Linked DNA regions of Homo sapiens. Changing the gene in region 4 together with the main gene of any one other region gives a genetic interaction. Each region holds a gene or a part of one and is shown on either strand. Other genes may lie near its edges. The genes, in order: RIT1, EGFR, KRAS, LSM5 and ATG10.

Region 1 (4,042 bases), on a different chromosome or scaffold from region 4:
TTTTAAAAATTTTGTAAAAGTAGGGTCTCACCATATTGCCCAGCTTGGTCTCAAGTTCCTGGGCTCAAGCAATCCTCCTACCTTAGCCTCCCAAAGTTCTGGAATTACAGGTGTGAGCCACCAAGCCCAGCCTATTTATCTTTCTTAAAATAAAAAGTATGGGGAAAATTAAGATTGTGTATTTGATATCTAAAACTATTCCCTGTTCCAAAAAGTATCTTAAAAATAGACTAGAGACCGGGCACAGTGGCCGACGCCTGTAATCCCAGTACTTTGGGAGGCCGAGGTGGGCAGATCACCTGAGGTCAGGAGTTTACAACCAGCCTGACCAACATGGAGAAACCCCGTCTCTACTAAAAATACAAAATTAGCCAGGTGTGGTGGCGCATGCCTGTAATCTCAGCTACTCAGGAGGCTGAGGCAGGAGAATCACTTGAACCCGGGAGGCCGAGGTTGTGAGCCACAATCATGCCATTGCACTCCAATCTGGGCAACAAGAACGCAACTCTGTCTCAAAAAAAAAAGTAGACTAGAAATAGAATCATATCATTTGAAGGCAGAATAAGAAACCTTAGAAGTAATCTAGCCTAAAATTACAAAAATTAGTGCTGTATGCTTGAACACCTCCAGAATTGAGAAGCTTTCTTTGTGTTAAGGTGGTGGTGCATTCAGGTTTTTGGACAATTTAATTGTTTTTCACTGTTATCTTTTCTCACATTTTGCCCTTAAAGGTCACCAAGGAAGAAGGATTGGCCTTGGCCCGAGAATTCAGCTGTCCCTTTTTTGAGACATCTGCTGCATACCGCTACTATATTGATGATGTTTTCCATGCCCTTGTACGGGAGATACGTAGGAAAGAAAAGGAGGCAGTACTGGCCATGGAGAAAAAATCTAAGCCCAAAAACAGTGTATGGAAGAGGCTAAAATCACCATTCCGGAAGAAGAAAGATTCAGTAACTTGAAGAGAAGATGTGAAGTGTTTATCTGTGAACTGCAGTGCTGTATCAAAGCAGTCCAGTAACCTGCAGTACTGAGTATGGTGCTTGCTCTTTCACTTAACTGATAAGAGGGACATGCCTACTAGGAGTTTTTAATGATGTGGTATTTAAAGTATTGTCTCTTAGTTAAGTATGATTTATTAACCCAGTGGAGCACTGTCTGCTTTTAAATTGTCACATTAGAATTTGTTCTACCAATGTTTTGGGTTCTGTTGCGCTATTAATTAATGTAAATTTGTTTATACCCAGGAGAATATGTATACCATGTGTGTTTGACTAAGTTCACAAGGGAAGTTTTTGGCTCTGCACTCCACATTATCCTTTAATTTCAATTTCCTGGGACTATCCCAGAGAAAGACCTCAGTCTCTTCTATTCACACTATGCTTCCTAGAGACAGAACAAAAATCATGTAGGGAAATTGGGGCTAATGAGATCAGTGCCAAATTTCAGCAGATACCTGTGAGGCTGACACCTGTTGCAGACTATGGAGTGGTGAGATTTGGGAAAGTTGGGCTATATGTTTGCAGGGACTTAAAAAGGTAGGTTCAGAACAGTATTCTCAGTACAAGCTTCGCTTTTCTAAGAAGTACACATTTGGCCCAAATTCACCGGGATAAGTGAGAACAGCCAGAAGCATAAAATGTGATGAAGGTTTCTCCTGGGAACCTTATTTTACTCTTCATTTCAGGGTTTTCTTTTTTTTTTTACCTTCAAAGGTAGACATTTTGGGAATCATAACTGTATTACTAAACGTGTTTAATCAAAATTCATAGTTGGATCAGCCATTGCCTTGTACAGGTTTATTTTTTCCCCACAGACGCACACACCAACACATTTATATTCATTGCTTCCTCCCACTTTGTGCTCTGTAAAAGAGCTACAGCTGGCAAGATGTTTTTTCGGCCCTTCATCACTGATTGCATTTTCCATACAGAAGAGACATCAGGGGTGTGGGTAAAATTGTGTGTGTGCCTCCTTGACGTGGACAATCACTAGACTCAGTGCTCTGAGAAAATCTGCTATTTCTGTTGAATGGGTCAGTCTTAAAGCTTTAAAATTCACATAGGTGGAGTTTCCCATCTGAAGATTTCTTTACAAGGACTTTGCTAAGTTCATCTCAGGGTTATCTGAGCCTTGACCAAGTTTATCCTAAGGGAATACCACTTTGCTCCCTGTGCATAGTTTAGGAACTGTAGTCCTAGGAGGAAACAGCTTTAAATATTGGTAGTGAGTTGTCTAAGATCAGGACTGTTTTGATATCTGACCTTGTTATATGCGGAGAGTAAATGCAAAAATGCTAAGAGTAATGCATCATGTATTGAATATTAAGTGTCACTGAAGCAATGTTTGTGTTGACTAGAAACGTAAGATGACTTGTGTAGCACCTCTTTATAAGCACACAGCTCATCTTAATATTTTCCATTTTTATTAGAGGAAGTAGGACAGAGTTGTGTTTTTCTTTATAAACAAATGATAAACTAGCTTTTTTAAAAAGTGACTGTTAGAACTTTTTTAGCTCTGAGTAGTGGTCCCTTTTTAAACTCCTGGAAACATTTTTGTTACCAAATAAATCATGTTTTATGGTACTCAGCCATCCAAAAGTGAAAGACCTAGCATTTGATTCTGTGCAGGACACAAATCTCACAGGAACTATAGCACTTTGGAAAAGCATCAAAGTAGAAAAGAAATACAGTGCAATTCTATTATGAGAATGTTTTACATTTAAACTGGTTTAGCACCTTTTAAGTTTAAAGCCCATAGCTTCTTATTACTAGTGACCTAGGGAATTGTTATTAACATTAAGAGATATATATATATATATATATATATATTTTTTTTTTTTTTTTTTTTTTTTTTTAAATAGAGATGAGGTTTCACTATGTTGCCCAGGCTGATCTCGAACTCCTAGGCTCAAGCAATCCTCCCAATATGCTGGGATTACAGGCATGAGCCACCACCTGGCCCAAGCAAGAAATTGACACTATATAGTTATTTAAGGTAGTCAGGCAGTAGAAACATTGCCAGAAGGATAGAAAGGAATTTGGATTATATATAAGGAAAATAACAAATCGGTGTTTTTAAGACTATCACTGTCATATATTAGATCCTTGTATTAGTCCATCCATTAATATTAGTTCTATTCGTGGTGCTAGGTAGCTTGACAGGTATGATATGCATAAGTCATAGCTCTATTCTTAGTGTCATAAAGTGTAGCTAATTTATAAGCTCTAAGTAATCAGCTTTATCTAATTTGAGGGCATTAAAATTACTGCCTAGAACTTTGAGAAGAGAAAAATTCAGGGATAAGTTGAAAGGCACTGGAACTGTTCATGTCCATACCAGACCGGTAAATTATAAGATCCAGATGTTAGTGTCTAGAATTAGCTGTTTAGAATTCAGAGGGGACATATGTTTTAACTTTGTCATATATTAGCAAGAATTGGTCTACTGTGATGTTTGGGGAGGAGGAGGGGGGGATAATTTTTTTAATGCACTTGTATGTGAAGACAGTTTGTATGACATAATACAAAACTTTTAAACAACTTGGGCTTTCCTTTGCTTCCCTATCAGTGGGTAGAGTTTTTGGAATCATTGCAAAAGAGTTGTTTTCAGAAAAACATAACCATGAGATGTGATATTCTGGAAAATATGAATTCAAAAAATTTGAGTGCCCACCATGAACAAGACACCCATGTCAAGTGCTAGGGAGCATGCCATGGAATCCCCCTTCATTTGAAGAGATTACCTCTTGGGAGGAGACAGGAAAAACACATATGGAAAATGACAGCACATTTGCTACCTGATCAAGGGTTACTTAAAGTTGTTATAAGTAAATACACTAAATGAAAAGTGAAAGAATGATTTTTTTTTTTTTTTTTTTTTTGAGACAGAATCTCGCTCTGTCGCCCAGGCTGGAGTACAGTGGCGCGATTTCGGCTCACGGCAAGCTCCGCCTCCTGGGTTCACGCCATTCTCCTGCCTCAACCTCCCAAGTAGCTGGGACTACAGGCGCCCGCCACCACACCTGGCTAATTTTTTGTAT
Region 2 (3,521 bases), about 23 Mb from region 4:
GATCGCATTATTAAACCCTCCAGCGCATTAGAGCAAGCCTCAGTAAGGCGCAGGCCACATCGTGAACTAAGCAGCATCCGTGAGTGGGGCCCACCCAACTCCATCTCCCCCTCCCCGTCTGAACTCTCCTCTGGTGCTCGTCCTCACTGTCCGGCTAGCCAAAGCCTCAGCTGGGTCTAAGAGAGAAGCATGGTCTATTGGGCTTTGGTGTCAGGCAGACGTGGCTTCACACCCCTGACTCTCCACTTCTTCGCATCACCCAGGCAGCCGATCCACCTATCTCCTTCCATAACACAGGAATACCAAAACCAAGCTCACAGGATTGTCTCAAAGATTCAATAAAATATGTTGCAAAATACGCTCCCTAACACCTCACAGCAAGGTGCACACTCGATGAATGCTGCAGCTTCTTCCCTTTCTGTTTCCTCAGAAGCTATTTGAATCTCATGTAGGGGCTTTCAAGCATCAAAGGATGGTTCATGTTTTATTTTAAGGCACCCACATCATGTCATGAGGGGAGGCAGCTATAATTTAGAGAACCAAGGGGGATTTCATTATAACAAAATTGGCAAACACACAGGCACCTGCTGGCAATAGACCCCTGCTCCTATAGCCAAGAAGTGGAATAGCATCTCTACGGGCCATTCTAATAGCCTCAAAATCTCTGCACCAGGGGGATGAAAGAATGCATTTGCCAAGTCCTACAGACTCCAACTTCTACCGTGCCCTGATGGATGAAGAAGACATGGACGACGTGGTGGATGCCGACGAGTACCTCATCCCACAGCAGGGCTTCTTCAGCAGCCCCTCCACGTCACGGACTCCCCTCCTGAGCTCTCTGGTATGAAATCTCTGTCTCTCTCTCTCTCTCAAGCTGTGTCTACTCATTTGAACAAATTGAATTTTAGGGAAAATAACCATCTAGTGAAACTCACATGGATATGAAGTCAATTTTAACCAAATGGTAAAATCAAAATCAAAATAAATTAAGTGTATTAATTATTTTGTTGCATTGCAACAACTTGATTGTAAGCCTTTTAGGTCCACTATGGAATGTAATTAAATCAAAACTAAACCTAGTTGCTCTAAAACTAACGATTAAGACAAAAATTAAACACCTTCACAATATACCCTCCATGAGGCACACCACCTGCATTCAGGAAAAGTGGATGAGATGTGGTACAAGCATTCCATGGGCAACTTCTCTGTTTCTTTTTCAGAGTGCAACCAGCAACAATTCCACCGTGGCTTGCATTGATAGAAATGGGGTATGTATGAACACCTTATAAGCCAGAATTTACAGCTCTCCACTATGGCTCTATTTTACATGGAAAATGCCTTAACCTAAATAATTTTAACCCAGATAATCTTGAGTTTTCTTCCTGTGTGGGTTTTTCCCTGCACGGCTGTCACGCCTCACAGTGCCGTTCAAAGCGTGACTCCTGGACCAGTAGTAGCATCGCCTGGCCTTGTTAGAAACGCCATTTTTCAGGCCACTGCCCCAGTTTGACCAAATCAGGACCTCTGGGGGTGGCACCCAGTAGTCTATGTTTGAGCCACTTTCCAGGTGATGCTGATGTCTGTTGAAGTGTGAGGCCGTGGTCTAGACCGCACTGTGCCATGCAGAAACCACTAGCCACATGTGGCTACTTCAACTTAAATGTTAATGAGTTAAAATGAAATAAAATATAAAATTCAGTTTCTCACACATGTGAAGTGTCCAGTAGCCACACGTGGCTAGTGGTGACCGTATTGAAGAGCACCGCTCATAGCACACCTCCCTCACTGCGGAAAGTTCTGCTGTACAGCACCCAGCACAGCCCTGCTGCCCACCCTGCAGCCTGTGGCCCAGTAGCACCAGCACCCACCAGGGTGCAGACTCTCAGGCCTGCCCAACCTACTAATCAGAACCAGCATCTCAAGGAGATCTCGGGTGATTTTTGCAAACACTGAAGTTGGGGCAGCCCTGACCGGAGTAACCTTCCCTCATTTCCTCCTGCAGCTGCAAAGCTGTCCCATCAAGGAAGACAGCTTCTTGCAGCGATACAGCTCAGACCCCACAGGCGCCTTGACTGAGGACAGCATAGACGACACCTTCCTCCCAGTGCCTGGTGAGTGGCTTGTCTGGAAACAGTCCTGCTCCTCAACCTCCTCGACCCACTCAGCAGCAGCCAGTCTCCAGTGTCCAAGCCAGGTGCTCCCTCCAGCATCTCCAGAGGGGGAAACAGTGGCAGATTTGCAGACACAGTGAAGGGCGTAAGGAGCAGATAAACACATGACCGAGCCTGCACAAGCTCTTTGTTGTGTCTGGTTGTTTGCTGTACCTCTGTTGTAAGAATGAATCTGCAAAATTTCTAGCTTATGAAGCAAATCACGGACATACACATCTGTGTGTGTGAGTGTTCATGATGTGTGTACATCTGTGTATGTGTGTGTGTGTATGTGTGTGTTTGTGACAGATTTGATCCCTGTTCTCTCTGCTGGCTCTATCTTGACCTGTGAAACGTATATTTAACTAATTAAATATTAGTTAATATTAATAAATTTTAAGCTTTATCCAGATACTCATAACCTGCTAACACACACACATATACACACACATACACATACACACATATACACACACCACACACATACACAGACACCACACACATACCATACACAGACACATACACATGCACACACATATACACACACACCTCAAATACATACACACCACACACACATACATGTATACACACATACACACACCACACATACACCACAAAAACCCCACACACATACACATATACACACCACACACACCACATACACACACGTATACACACATATATACACACATACACCATGCATACATACACACCACACATACATACAGACACACCACACACACGTACACACAACACACAACACAGACACGTACACACACTACAGACATGTATGCACACATACACACACACCACACATACATACACACAGACACATATACACTACACACACCATTACATACACACGTACACATACACCACACACACCACACATACACACACCACACACACATACGCCACACACACACCACAAAAACCGCACACACATACAAACATATACACACTACACCACACATACACACACACACCACACACCACACACACACATACACACACCACACACACCACACATACACGCACCACACATACACACACGTAGACACACCACACACACCACAGAAACACACATTAACACACCACATACACATATGTATGTGCATATACACACCCACACCCCACACACACATGTATAAAGATTTAGATATATATAAAACATATGTTATATATATGTTGATGTAATATCTAATATCTATATATCTAATATGTAGTTTATTAGCTATCTAATATCTATGTCATATATATCAAAATCTTTATATATAAAAATATGTAGAAATCTTTATACATATGTTATATGTATATAAAGATTTAGATATATAACATATGTAAGTTATATATATGTTAGTGTAATATCTA
Region 3 (3,521 bases), on a different chromosome or scaffold from region 4:
GGCAACAGAAAGAGACTCCATCTCTTAAAAAAAGTAAAAATAAAAAAATTTTGGCACAGGGACAGTGGCTCACACTTATAATGCCAGAACTTTAGGAGTCCACAGCGCGAGGACTGCTTGAGGCCAGGAGTTTAAGACCAGACTGGGCAACGTAATGAGACCCCACCTTTAGGAAATAAATACATAAATAAAAATTTGACAATGATAAACATATATAAATTAGCTTTTCTTAGTCCTGAAAAAGATAATGTTATGTGTATGTGTGAGAATGATTAGTTCTCATATGAGAAAAAAAGAATTCATTGCTCTGTGTAGGTTGTGACATTTCCTTCACGATTGAAATTAATTAATTTTTTTTTATTACTTATTTATTTTTAAAATAGAGACAGGTTCTTGCTGTGTTGCCCAGGCTGGTCTCAAACTCCTGGCCTCAAGCAGTTCTCCTGCCTCAGCCTCCCAAATTGCTGTGACTGTAGGTGTGAGCCACTGCACTGGGCCAAAATTACTTAATTTTAACAAGATGATGTAGAGAGGAGAGTTCATTGCAACATAAGCCTAGAATCTTTGTCAGAATCTTAGGAAGTAATGTTTTCAAATTCTGTGTTTTCACCATAAAATGTGTCTTCTCTGTGTCCATCACATGGTTTTTCATTGTTTTCTGCTTTACCATTTTAGTACCATTGGCATTTTTCTTCATTGTAAAAGTAGTAGAAATGGAGTAGATTACATAAGGATGTGATCAGAGGGAATTTATTCATTCAGGGTAAGGGAGTTAGATCCTCTTTTAAGATTCTATCACATTCTAAGGGTTTATGATTCTAAACTGTCAAGTAAATTGTCAAGTGCTGGCAAGCTACAGAATAATTTTTATTGTATCATTGGAAATTTTCCCCTCTATATGTGTTAAAGAGTTTAGCCTGAAGGGATACATACACATACATATATGTAATCAAACCTTGATGGTATTGTATTGCTGATAAATTATTTCTTACCACTTTTCCTTTCTCCTGTGGGAGAAACAAAAGCATATGTTTGTGTAGTATCAGTAATGATATTAGAGAGTGGGAAACATCAGTGAGTGCAGTTTGGGGACTTTATTGGAGACTTTCACTAGTGCTCAAATAAATAATGCTGGTTTTTATCCTACTGTTTGCTTAATGTGGACTAGCCTCTTATTCCCATTCTATGTTTACCTCTCTTAAAATATTGGTCACGCTTTCTTGAATTATAGATCTATTAGGAAAATTCATGAACTGTAGCTAATTTTCATTGTTCATGCTCCAGATTTATTTTGAAATATCGTTAATCTTAGTAGTACAGTAAAGGAGAAATACCACTTAACATTTTTTGTTTTTTTTTCTTTGAGACAGAGTCATGCTCTGTCACCCAGTCTGGAGTGCAGTGGTGCTATCTCGGCTCACTGCAATGCACTTCGCCTCTCCGGGTTCAGCAATTCTCCTGCCTCAGCCTCCTGAGTAGCTGGGATTACAGGCACCTGCTACCACACCCAGCTAATTTTTGTATTTTTAGTAGAGACAGGGTTTCACCATGTTGGCCAGGCTGGTCTGAAACTCCTCACCTCAAGTGATCCACCCGTCTTGGCCTCCCAAAGTGCTGGGATTACAGGCTTGAGCCACCGCACCCCGCCCACTTAACATTTTAAATTAATTTCAAGATAATATCACTTGAATATTTTTACACATATAATTTTTTTAATACATTTATTTACACAGTTTATAATATCCTACAAAGTGATTACAATGAGTAAAAACCCAGTTTTCATTGTTCCTAAAGTGGCTTGATTTATACAACTTAATGTGTTGGGTATTTGTTTCTAAGACTCCCTCTGCTGTCTAGGTTTGGAAGTATTGTGAGGTTAACAGATTTTCTTTTTATAGTTACTACTCAGTTGAACAGGCTTTAAAATACAGAGAGAATCATATTTTTTCTTCATTTTTTGCTTTTATTTATATTTTTCTTTTAATTGGAGACATGACAAGAATTGACTTGTGTATGGATCTTGCATAATTTAAGTACTGCAGGTTTAAAATCTACTACCAGTTTGAGAGTGCCATTTTTCACACTGTAGATTATTAGGTTGAAAAGTATTATGGCTTAAAATCGCTTTTAGCCATTAAATTTAAATAACCTTGCTTTAATCATAAATAGATGGTGGTCACAATGACTAACTGTTAAACTCTTTGAAGACAGGATATTTGGCTTTATATGGCAAGCTTTTGAATACAACAGAAATTAAAACTTTATGGGATAGAAAGAATCTCCTCCAAATTGGTAAACTATAAGACCTTTCAAATGATTTAGCTAATTTCTCCACAAATCTGAGGTATTAGTGTTTTTTTTAAAGTGGTATTCTCCTGTGTTGGGGTCACTTTAAACCTTTTTCTTAATGATAAATATATGAATTGAAACTAATCCCTTAATATATATCATTTGAAAACTGAAATAATATGTTTAGATACTGTTTACTTGTTGATAAATTATTGGAATAGGATGTTCGAATACTGTTTACTTCTTGGTAAATTTTTAAATCCAATGGATTTTACGTAAGTATAGAACTGGAGCTCAAATACTGTTACTGTGTGTGAAGATATATGAACATAGTTTACAGTTGCATGGCTTATATCTAAAGTCCAGAAACATAAGGACAATTAAGTGTACACACACACACATGCATTTGGATTTTGATGACTTAGGTTTGCCAATGTGGAAAAAATAGTAGCAAATTAAGTTCTCCTGTGAAAAAGTCGTTACCTTATTTAAAATTCTGTGCCATTGGTTATCCTTGTCTTTTGTGAAAATTAGTGTTCCTGTTTATAATATTGACAAAACACCTATGCGGATGACATTTAAGAATTCTAAAAGTCCTAATATATGTAATATATATTCAGTTGCCTGAAGAGAAACATAAAGAATCCTTTCTTAATATTTTTTCCATTAATGAAATTTGTTACCTGTACACATGAAGCCATCGTATATATTCACATTTTAATACTTTTTATGTATTTCAGGGTGTTGATGATGCCTTCTATACATTAGTTCGAGAAATTCGAAAACATAAAGAAAAGATGAGCAAAGATGGTAAAAAGAAGAAAAAGAAGTCAAAGACAAAGTGTGTAATTATGTAAATACAATTTGTACTTTTTTCTTAAGGCATACTAGTACAAGTGGTAATTTTTGTACATTACACTAAATTATTAGCATTTGTTTTAGCATTACCTAATTTTTTTCCTGCTCCATGCAGACTGTTAGCTTTTACCTTAAATGCTTATTTTAAAATGACAGTGGAAGTTTTTTTTTCCTCTAAGTGCCAGTATTCCCAGAGTTTTGGTTTTTGAACTAGCAATGCCTGTGAAAAAGAAACTGAATACCTAAGATTTCTGTCTTGGGGCTTTTGGTGCATGCAGTTGATTACTTCTTATTTTTCTTACCAATTGTGAATGTTGGTGTGAAACAAATTAATGAAGCTTTTGAATCATCCCTATTCTGTGTTTTATCTAGTC
Region 4 (4,229 bases):
TATTAGAAAACAAGGATAAGTAATAACAGCTCATGTTTAAAAGGGCTATGTGCCAGGTCCTATGCTGACCACTTTTCATAGATTATCTCAATTAATCTTCACATTAATCTTATGAGTAGATACTGTTGTCCCCATTTTTTCCAATGGGTATATTGAGACTTAAAAAGTTAAAATAACTTGCCCATTGTCAAATAACTGACCATGGAATTTGAACCAAAGTCATTTAATTCAAAATGAAGAAATTTAATCACGTAAACTACTGCTTCCCATAATTCTCAGCCTTGAGGAACTCAGTCTATGAAGGAATGATGGGTGCTTAATGACCATTTGTTGTATGAATGAATGACGTTCTTTGTGGCCGCTCATGTTTATTGTTTAGCTTTTTTTTTTTTTTTTTTTGAGATGGAGTTTCGCTCTTGTTGTTCAGGCTGGAGTGCAGTTGCATGATCTAGGCTCACTGCAACCGCTGCCTCTCGGGTTCAAGCAGTTCTCCTGCCTCTGCCTCCCGAGTAGCTGGGACTACAGGCGCACGCCACCACGCCCAGCTAATTTTTGTATTTTTAGTAGAGACGGGGTTTCACCCATGTTGGCCAGGCTGGTCTCGAACTCCTGACCTCAGGTGATCCGCCCGCCTCGGCCTTCCAAAGTGCTGGGATTACAGTCGTTACCACTGCGCCTGACCTAGACTGTTCAGGTTTAAGTTCCTAGGATACAAATATAAAACAGACTAGGGCCGATACTTTGCTGTTTTCAACACAGAAGTGGAAAGCATGATTTTACACTTCTGGAATAATTTAGAGTGACATCTGGTGGTTGCCTGTGAGACAAGAATTGTTGAAGAAACTGAATTTAAAAGCCTATAATAAATAAGACTACCAGACATAAAAAGATAAGAACGATGAATTAAAGTAGTAAAAAGTTTAAAAAACATATCTTAAATCCTCACTAAAGAAAAATTTTAAAAAATGCTAGTTGCAGATTTTCAATCCACTGGACTTTAAAAAGAAACAATAGATTCCTTAATGAGTAGTTGTAACGAAAATTGTAACAGTTAATTGATGGCAGGAAATACGAATTGATTTATACTGGTTTGAAGATTCTGGCTTGAGAGGAAATGCAACTTTACGGGGGAAGAAGACTCAAACGTTACAGGAACAATTTATTCACAAGGCAAAATATCTTCAACGTCTCTCCAAAACTTCAAGGGCATTATGGGTATCTGCCGAGATGGTAAAATGTCCAGTGGGCAGGAAATATTTCACCGGATCTCACTTGCCGGGGAAAAAAGCCAGTGAACGCGACCCACGCAGCTGACTAGATCGTGCGCTCGGCCTCAGATTGGTCGAGCCTGTTTGGGCTGCGGAAAAAGCGGAAGCGCGCTTTTCAAAGTCGTCCCACCATCAATGAAGGCAGGCCACTTCCGGCGTAGCCATGGCGGCTAACGCTACTACCAACCCGTCGCAGCTGCTGCCCTTAGGTAATCGCCGTCCTTTGGGGAGCAGGAACAGGGAGCTGACATTCAGGATTGGGGGCCGAGGGGCTGTTCCGAGGCAGGCCCTGGCCGAGTGTGGGGAAATGTATAAGACCAAATGCGGTTCGACTCTGAGCTCCAAGTCTTCGCGACAGCAGGCCGCACCTGCTCTTTAACGTGGTCGGGCTCCTCCAGGCAAGGACTTTGACTTCTCAAACCAGACCTTCACTGGAAAAGGTCCACATTTAGTGAACGCGTCGTCGGCCTACTTTGTTGTGAGCCCGCCTCTGCAGTGTTATAGGTAGTAGGCCTACTTCTCAGCCTGGCGTTTACGATCCCCAGATTAGATAGACCATGTTATGTATGTGGTTGGTTAGTGACACTAACACCCTGGTCCGGAATGAGCCTTAAATGAGGAATCTGGAAACCAGCTCTGTTTGTTATTTATTCATTCAATAAGTAGTAACTGAGTATCTATACACTAGATACCGTGCCTGGGCATTTTTCAATGATAAACCATAGCCATTGCCTTCAAATAGCACACAAGCCAGTGGAGGAGAGAACACTGGACAAGTAGACATCATGCCACATAATGCTAGGCTAGCTAAAGAGATGTTCAAGCTACCGTCAGAGCACAGAGGATAGACAGAGTTGGGAAAGGGAAGCAGTGACCGGAGAGTTTCCGGTGAATATAATTATACCTATCTCCTCTTATATTTTTGTAGTTGGTGAAGAGTGATTGAACTAGTGGTCGTGGCCGTGATTGAAAAGTTTTCATTCCTTCATGCCACAGACTCTTTTGGAAGGCTCATTATGTGCCAGATGCTGTGCTTGAACTGAGATTTGTATTATAAGACCTAAAGTTATTGAATGAATGTTTTTCCTGGTTTTTCTTTCACTATATGCAAGTAAGAGTGCCAGTAGGCACTCAAATATTTGTTGAAATAATGAATGGTAAAATAATATTTTTTCCCTCCTCAGAGCTTGTGGACAAATGTATAGGATCAAGAATTCACATCGTGATGAAGAGTGATAAGGAAATTGTTGGTACTCTTCTAGGATTTGATGACTTTGTCAGTATCCTTTTAAAAGGTGGTGGTGGTATAGGTTTTTCTTAAGTAATAACATAAGAACTATAGACAATCAGTATATTTGTGATTATTATAATAAAAATCAGTTCATTCTCAGGGAACTTATGATAATGTTTTAAGAGGTATGTATTGAAAGACGGTAAAGTTCCTATCAACAACAAGCATTTTGAATTTGAGCCATTGTATTAAACATTGTAATTAAAACTGAACAGGCGAGCCCAGTGGCTCACGCCTATAATCCCAGCGCTTTGGGAGGGCGAGGTGGGTGGATCGCTTGAGCCCAGGAGTTTGAGACCAGCCTGGGCAAGATGATGAAACCCTGTCTCCACAAAAATTACAAAAATTAGCTGGGCATGGTGATGTACACCTGTGGGTCCAGCTAATCTCCGGGGCTAAGGCAGGAGGATCCTTTAAGCCTAAAAGGTGGAGGCTGCAGTGAGGTGTGATTGTACCACTGCACTTAAGCCTGGATGACAGAGCGAGACTTTGTCTCAAAACAAAAACAAAAACAAAAAACAAAAGCTGAACAAAGGCAGAAGCTAGAGTAAATTCTGTATTTATTTTCTTAACACCAAATTTCAGATATGGTACTGGAAGATGTCACTGAGTTGTGAGTAGTGTTAAAGAATTGGGGGGAATCTCTTCTTAATTAAAGACAGTTTTACTACTTTTGAGTAAAATTATTTATGAGAAAACATTACCTCTTGGTGGAATAACGTTAAAGATAGACGTTTTATCTGTTTGCTTGTAAAATTGGATCAGAGTGTTATTACCTTAATGTAATTATTAGTAAACGCCTAGAATATTAGTGGAGACACAGTTTTAAGGTAGAAGATAACAAAAAGAGCCAGGAATTTTAGGGTTCAGGTCAAATAAAGGAACTGATAGTAAGAGCATTTAGGCTGGACATGGTGGCTCATTCCTGTAATCCTAGCACTTTGGAAGGCCAAAGGAGGAGGATTAAGCCTGGGAGTTTGAGACCAGCCTGGGCAACAAAGGGAGACCCCTGTCTCTATAAAAAATTTAAAAATTAGCTGGTTATAGTAGGGGGCAGCTGTAGTCCTAGCTGCTCTGGAGGGTGAGGATCCCTTGAGCCCAGGAGTTCTAGGCTGCAGTGAACTATGATTGTACCACTGTACTCAGCCTGGGCAACAGAGCAAGACCCTGTCTCTTAAAAAAAAAAAAACCCAAAAAACATTTCATTTCATATTTGATTTCCTGGGCAAGCTTTCACTTCTTTTTATGAAGCTCTGTCTGATAGACGTGGGTCTTAGTGTCAGTGAGTTCATTCTGCTGCTTTTAATGAAGGTTACATTACCTAGTGGATAACCTTTGTATCTGAAAATTGTGGATATAATTGCTCAACCTCAGTGTAATTTGTATACAAGGATAACCTTTTTAGGGAGGGTAAGTATTTCCAAAATGTTGGCTTTGATTTTCACTGTTTGTCCTGACTGTATTTTATCTATTCATTTAGTGAAATCACACCAGAAGGAAGAAGGATTACTAAATTAGATCAGATTTTGCTAAATGGAAATAATATAACAATGGTAAGACACATTGAAACTGTTTTATTTTGATGGGAGCCCATTTTTGGGGAGCAGTGATTACAGAACTAACCTTAATGTTGCTTGCTTGACTAAATGATCATGGCCCAGTGGTGCATA
Region 5 (3,521 bases), on a different chromosome or scaffold from region 4:
TGATCCACAGCTCAAACTCTCTTGCTGCCTTTGAACAGTGGGTAGTAGGACTAGTACAACAAACTCTAGTCAGCACATATGCCAAGTATCCAGAATTAGGAAATAAGGAGATAATGGGGTATCCTTGGCCAAAAGTATCCAAAAAATAAGAAGAGACAGAAAGGAGCAGTGGCTCATGCCTGTAATCCCAGCATTTTGGGAGGCCAAGGTGGATGGATCACCTGAGGTCAGGAGTTTGAGACCAGCCTGACCAACATGGTGAAACCCCATCTCTACTAAAAATACTAAAATTAGCTGGGCGTGGTGGCGGGCACATGTAATCCCAGCTACTTGGGAGGCTGAGGCAGGAGAATTGCATGAACCTGGGAGGCAGAGGTTGCAATGAGCTGAGATCATGCCATTGCACTCCAGCTTGGGCGACAGAGCAAGACTCCGCCTCAAAAAAAAAGACCAACACAATATCAGAAGCTACAGAATCAGTGCCAGTCTGAATACAGATTACAGAGCAAAGTGTCTTTAAAATATACTACCAAGTGCCATATTTTTATTTTGGAAAATAAAAAAAGGAAATGGTTGGACATTTTTGTAATGAAAGGCACATTCCCTTTAAATTTTTCTTCTTGCAAAAGTCTTTGTTCAGAGATGAGACTAATGTGCCTTCTATTTCCACAAGTTTTTCATTCATTCACTCAGTACCTACAATACCCTAGTGCTTGCTGTGAGTGTCCTCCTAGAAAAGAATGTCAAACTTCCTGGCAAAACTGGGGAAGACTCCAAAACTTGGAGTTCTGAACACATGAATTCAATTCTTGAAGAAATGAATTTTGAAATTTGAGTAAGGGCCAACCAGGTGGAGACAAAGTCACTCCAAAAAGATTGAGGAGCTCCTGCAAAGACAGGGTCTGAAAAGAATGCAAGGTTTAAAAATAAAACAAATGTCAGTGGATGGAGCATAGCTCGGGTGGAGAAGAGTATGGGCAAATAAGGTCTAATGGTTCCCAACTTTATGGGGAACCCGCTCTTCAAGGGGCTGCTTGGAAATAAATGGGATCATATTGGATTGTTAAAAAGAAGTTAGAGTTTGCCATTGCCATTTAGTGCTGAGGGACCAGGTAAAATAAACATCCTACAATGTACAGGACAATCCCACACAGTGAAGAGTTGTCTGTAAAAATGCCAGTAGAGCTCCCTTTGAGAAATACTGGGAAGTAGGTAAGGAATTAACAAAGTCTAGAGAATTTAACTCTAGGGCCTCAGCGTATCCTTTAAAATCTGTGATCACAATCTCCATTTCACTCACTAAATATTTACTAGGTGCTAAAAGATAAACCAAGGCACATTAAAATTTTAAAGGATTTATTTGAGGTCAGGCAAAGTAATCCTAGCACTTCGGGAGGACAAGGCAGGTGGATTGCCTGAGCTCAGGAATTCAAGACCAGCCTGGGCAAATGGTGAGATCCCGCCTCTACAAAAAAATACAAAAATTAGCCTGGCATAGTGGTGCATGCCTGTAGTCCCAGCTACTTGGGAGGCTGAGGTGGGAGGATAGCTGGAGCCCAGGAAATTGAGGCTGCAGTGAGCCATAACTGCACTACTGCCCTCCAGCCTGGGCGACACAACAAGATACTGTCTCAAAAAACAAAAACAAGAAAATGTTTATTTAAGCAGACAATGGTTAACCCATTTATGCTGGAGGTTGCAAATTTTTTTTGTGAAAAATCAGACCTTGGCGATGACCATGAGCAGGATATAAATAACTCCCACAAGCTTAGCGTTCCAATAATGGAACACTAGGCATATTAATGAATTGGTCAGCTCCAGAATGCAAGCAATATGGGGCTGCACCAAAAGGACACAGTTAGAAGGCTTTTGAAGAGTGAACGGCAGAAGCAAGGCCAAGAAAATCTGTGATTGGTCAAAGTGGAGTAGCCTTACTTGGATCATTCCAGTAAAAGTCAGTGGTTAGAGGTTAGTTGATGGTTTCTGATTGGTTAAGCTAAAGTTTCATTTTCCTAGAATACAACCATTTACACTGAGTTTGGTGTAAGTCTGTTTATGTAGGAACCCAGGGCACTGGAGCTTCCTCAGGCAATGGCCTCCCAATTAATTATTTTAACACAGGAAGCTGTTTTTGCTGGGCAATAAATATGTTTCCTTCTTTCCTTTGACCACCATGAAGCTTGGAACTTTGTGGCCTACCTTTAATAACTGTACAACAGGCCGGGCGCAGTGGCTCACGCCTGTAATCCCAGCACTTTGGGAGGCCGAGGCGGGCGGATCACGAGGTCAGGAGATCGAGACCATCTTGGCTAACACGGTGAAACCCCGTCTCTACTAAAAATACAAAAAAAAAAAAAAATTAGCCGGGCAAGGTGGCGGGCGCCTGTACTCCCAGCTACTCGGGAGGCTGAGGCAGGAGAATGGCGTGAACTCGGGGGCCGGAGCCTGCAGTGAGCCGAGATCACGCCACTGCACTCCAGCCTGGGCGACAGAGTGAGACTCCATCTCAAAAAAAAAAAAAGATAAAATAAATAAATAAATAAATAACTCTACAACATTCACAGTATATTTTCAGTATAACTCACCCTAATCACATCTTTCTATTCAAGCTTCATATTTTTATGATCTTGATTCTCTTTATTTTGTATGTTATTATATATTATATAGTTTAAGCTACCTCAAATACTTTTGGAACAAAATTGAGTTTAAATTTAAAACTCTAAGCTACAAAAGTACAATAAAAAACAAAAAAGAAAAAGAAAACTAGATAGTAAGATGGGAAGAAAAAAATATTACACTGAGCCCCCAAATCATCCTGAGAGGTCTGAGACACTTTTTTTTTTTGAGAGGGGGGTCTCACTATGTCACCCAGGTTGGAGGGCAGTGATACCATCTCAGCTGACTGCAACCTCCACCTGCCAGGCTCAAGCAATCCTCCCGCCTCAGCCTCTTGAGTAGCTGGGACCACATGTGTGCACCACCATGCACAGCTAATTTTTTGTATTTTTTGTAGAGACAGGGTTTTGCAATGTTGCCAAGGCTGGTCTCAAACTCCTCAGCTCAGGCAATTTGCCTGCCTCAGCCTCCCAAAGTGCTGAATCACAGGCATGAACCACTGTACCCAGCCTTGGTTTAAGAGACTTTCAAAAAGAAGTATAATACAGTCTTTGCCTTCAATAGTTTGTAACCAAATATTTTTTTATTTTTCAGAATACACATTCTTCTCAAAGTAATCAAATTTTTAAGTAAAGATTCACATTGAAAAGAACATCAGAGAATAATGGATAACAAAAAACAGTGATAAATTGTACAACCACTGTTTAAAGAATTAGTATGGATTAAAATAATTAAAATTGCATATATTACTATGTATTAAGAACTAGTAACAAATCCTCAGAGCAACTTTTTGAGGTAAATTACTAGGATTTTCTTTATTTTATAGATAAGGAAATTGAGACAGAGAGGGTAACTTGTCCAAGGTAACACAGCTGTTAAGTGTAGTAATTTGACCTAAGGAAGTC

What was found.
Region 1: changes in LSM5 (region 4) and RIT1 together harm fitness more than expected from each alone (negative genetic interaction), as found in Homo sapiens cells (one large-scale study listed by BioGRID).
Region 2: changes in LSM5 (region 4) and EGFR together harm fitness more than expected from each alone (negative genetic interaction), as found in Homo sapiens cells (one large-scale study listed by BioGRID).
Region 3: changes in LSM5 (region 4) and KRAS are lethal when combined (synthetic lethality), as found in Homo sapiens cells (3 studies listed by BioGRID, with this or other methods).
Region 5: of LSM5 (region 4) and ATG10, changing one enhances a phenotype caused by changing the other (phenotypic enhancement), as found in Homo sapiens cells (one large-scale study listed by BioGRID).

Annotation. Positions count from the first base shown.
Region 1 is NC_000001.11:155,897,308-155,901,349, reverse strand, and holds the end of RIT1 (GTP-binding protein Rit1), read left to right. Parts: intron 1-731; coding exon 732-962; 3' UTR 963-3,542; downstream 3,543-4,042.
Region 2 is NC_000007.14:55,200,515-55,204,035, forward strand, and holds part of EGFR (epidermal growth factor receptor isoform a precursor), read left to right. Parts: intron 1-673; coding exon 674-841; intron 842-1,220; coding exon 1,221-1,268; intron 1,269-2,002; coding exon 2,003-2,111; coding exon of another isoform or gene 2,112-2,251; exon of another isoform or gene 2,252-2,562; intron 2,563-3,521. UniProt on the Homo sapiens protein: Receptor tyrosine kinase binding ligands of the EGF family and activating several signaling cascades to convert extracellular cues into appropriate cellular responses.
Region 3 is NC_000012.12:25,209,420-25,212,940, reverse strand, and holds part of KRAS (GTPase KRas), read left to right. Parts: intron 1-762; coding exon of another isoform or gene 763-763; intron 764-3,029; coding exon 3,030-3,146; 3' UTR 3,147-3,521. UniProt on the Homo sapiens protein: Ras proteins bind GDP/GTP and possess intrinsic GTPase activity. Plays an important role in the regulation of cell proliferation.
Region 4 is NC_000007.14:32,487,568-32,491,796, reverse strand, and holds the start of LSM5 (U6 snRNA-associated Sm-like protein LSm5), read left to right. Parts: upstream 1-1,416; 5' UTR 1,417-1,431; coding exon 1,432-1,477; exon of another isoform or gene 1,478-1,772; intron 1,773-2,452; coding exon 2,453-2,548; intron 2,549-3,144; coding exon 3,145-3,172; intron 3,173-4,039; coding exon 4,040-4,112; intron 4,113-4,229. UniProt on the Homo sapiens protein: Plays a role in pre-mRNA splicing as component of the U4/U6-U5 tri-snRNP complex that is involved in spliceosome assembly, and as component of the precatalytic spliceosome (spliceosome B complex).
Region 5 is NC_000005.10:81,975,006-81,978,526, reverse strand, and holds part of ATG10 (ubiquitin-like-conjugating enzyme ATG10), read right to left. Parts: intron 2,335-3,521; exon of another isoform or gene 2,200-2,334; intron 199-2,199; exon of another isoform or gene 1-198. UniProt on the Homo sapiens protein: E2-like enzyme involved in autophagy. Acts as an E2-like enzyme that catalyzes the conjugation of ATG12 to ATG5. ATG12 conjugation to ATG5 is required for autophagy. Likely serves as an ATG5-recognition molecule. Not involved in ATG12 conjugation to ATG3.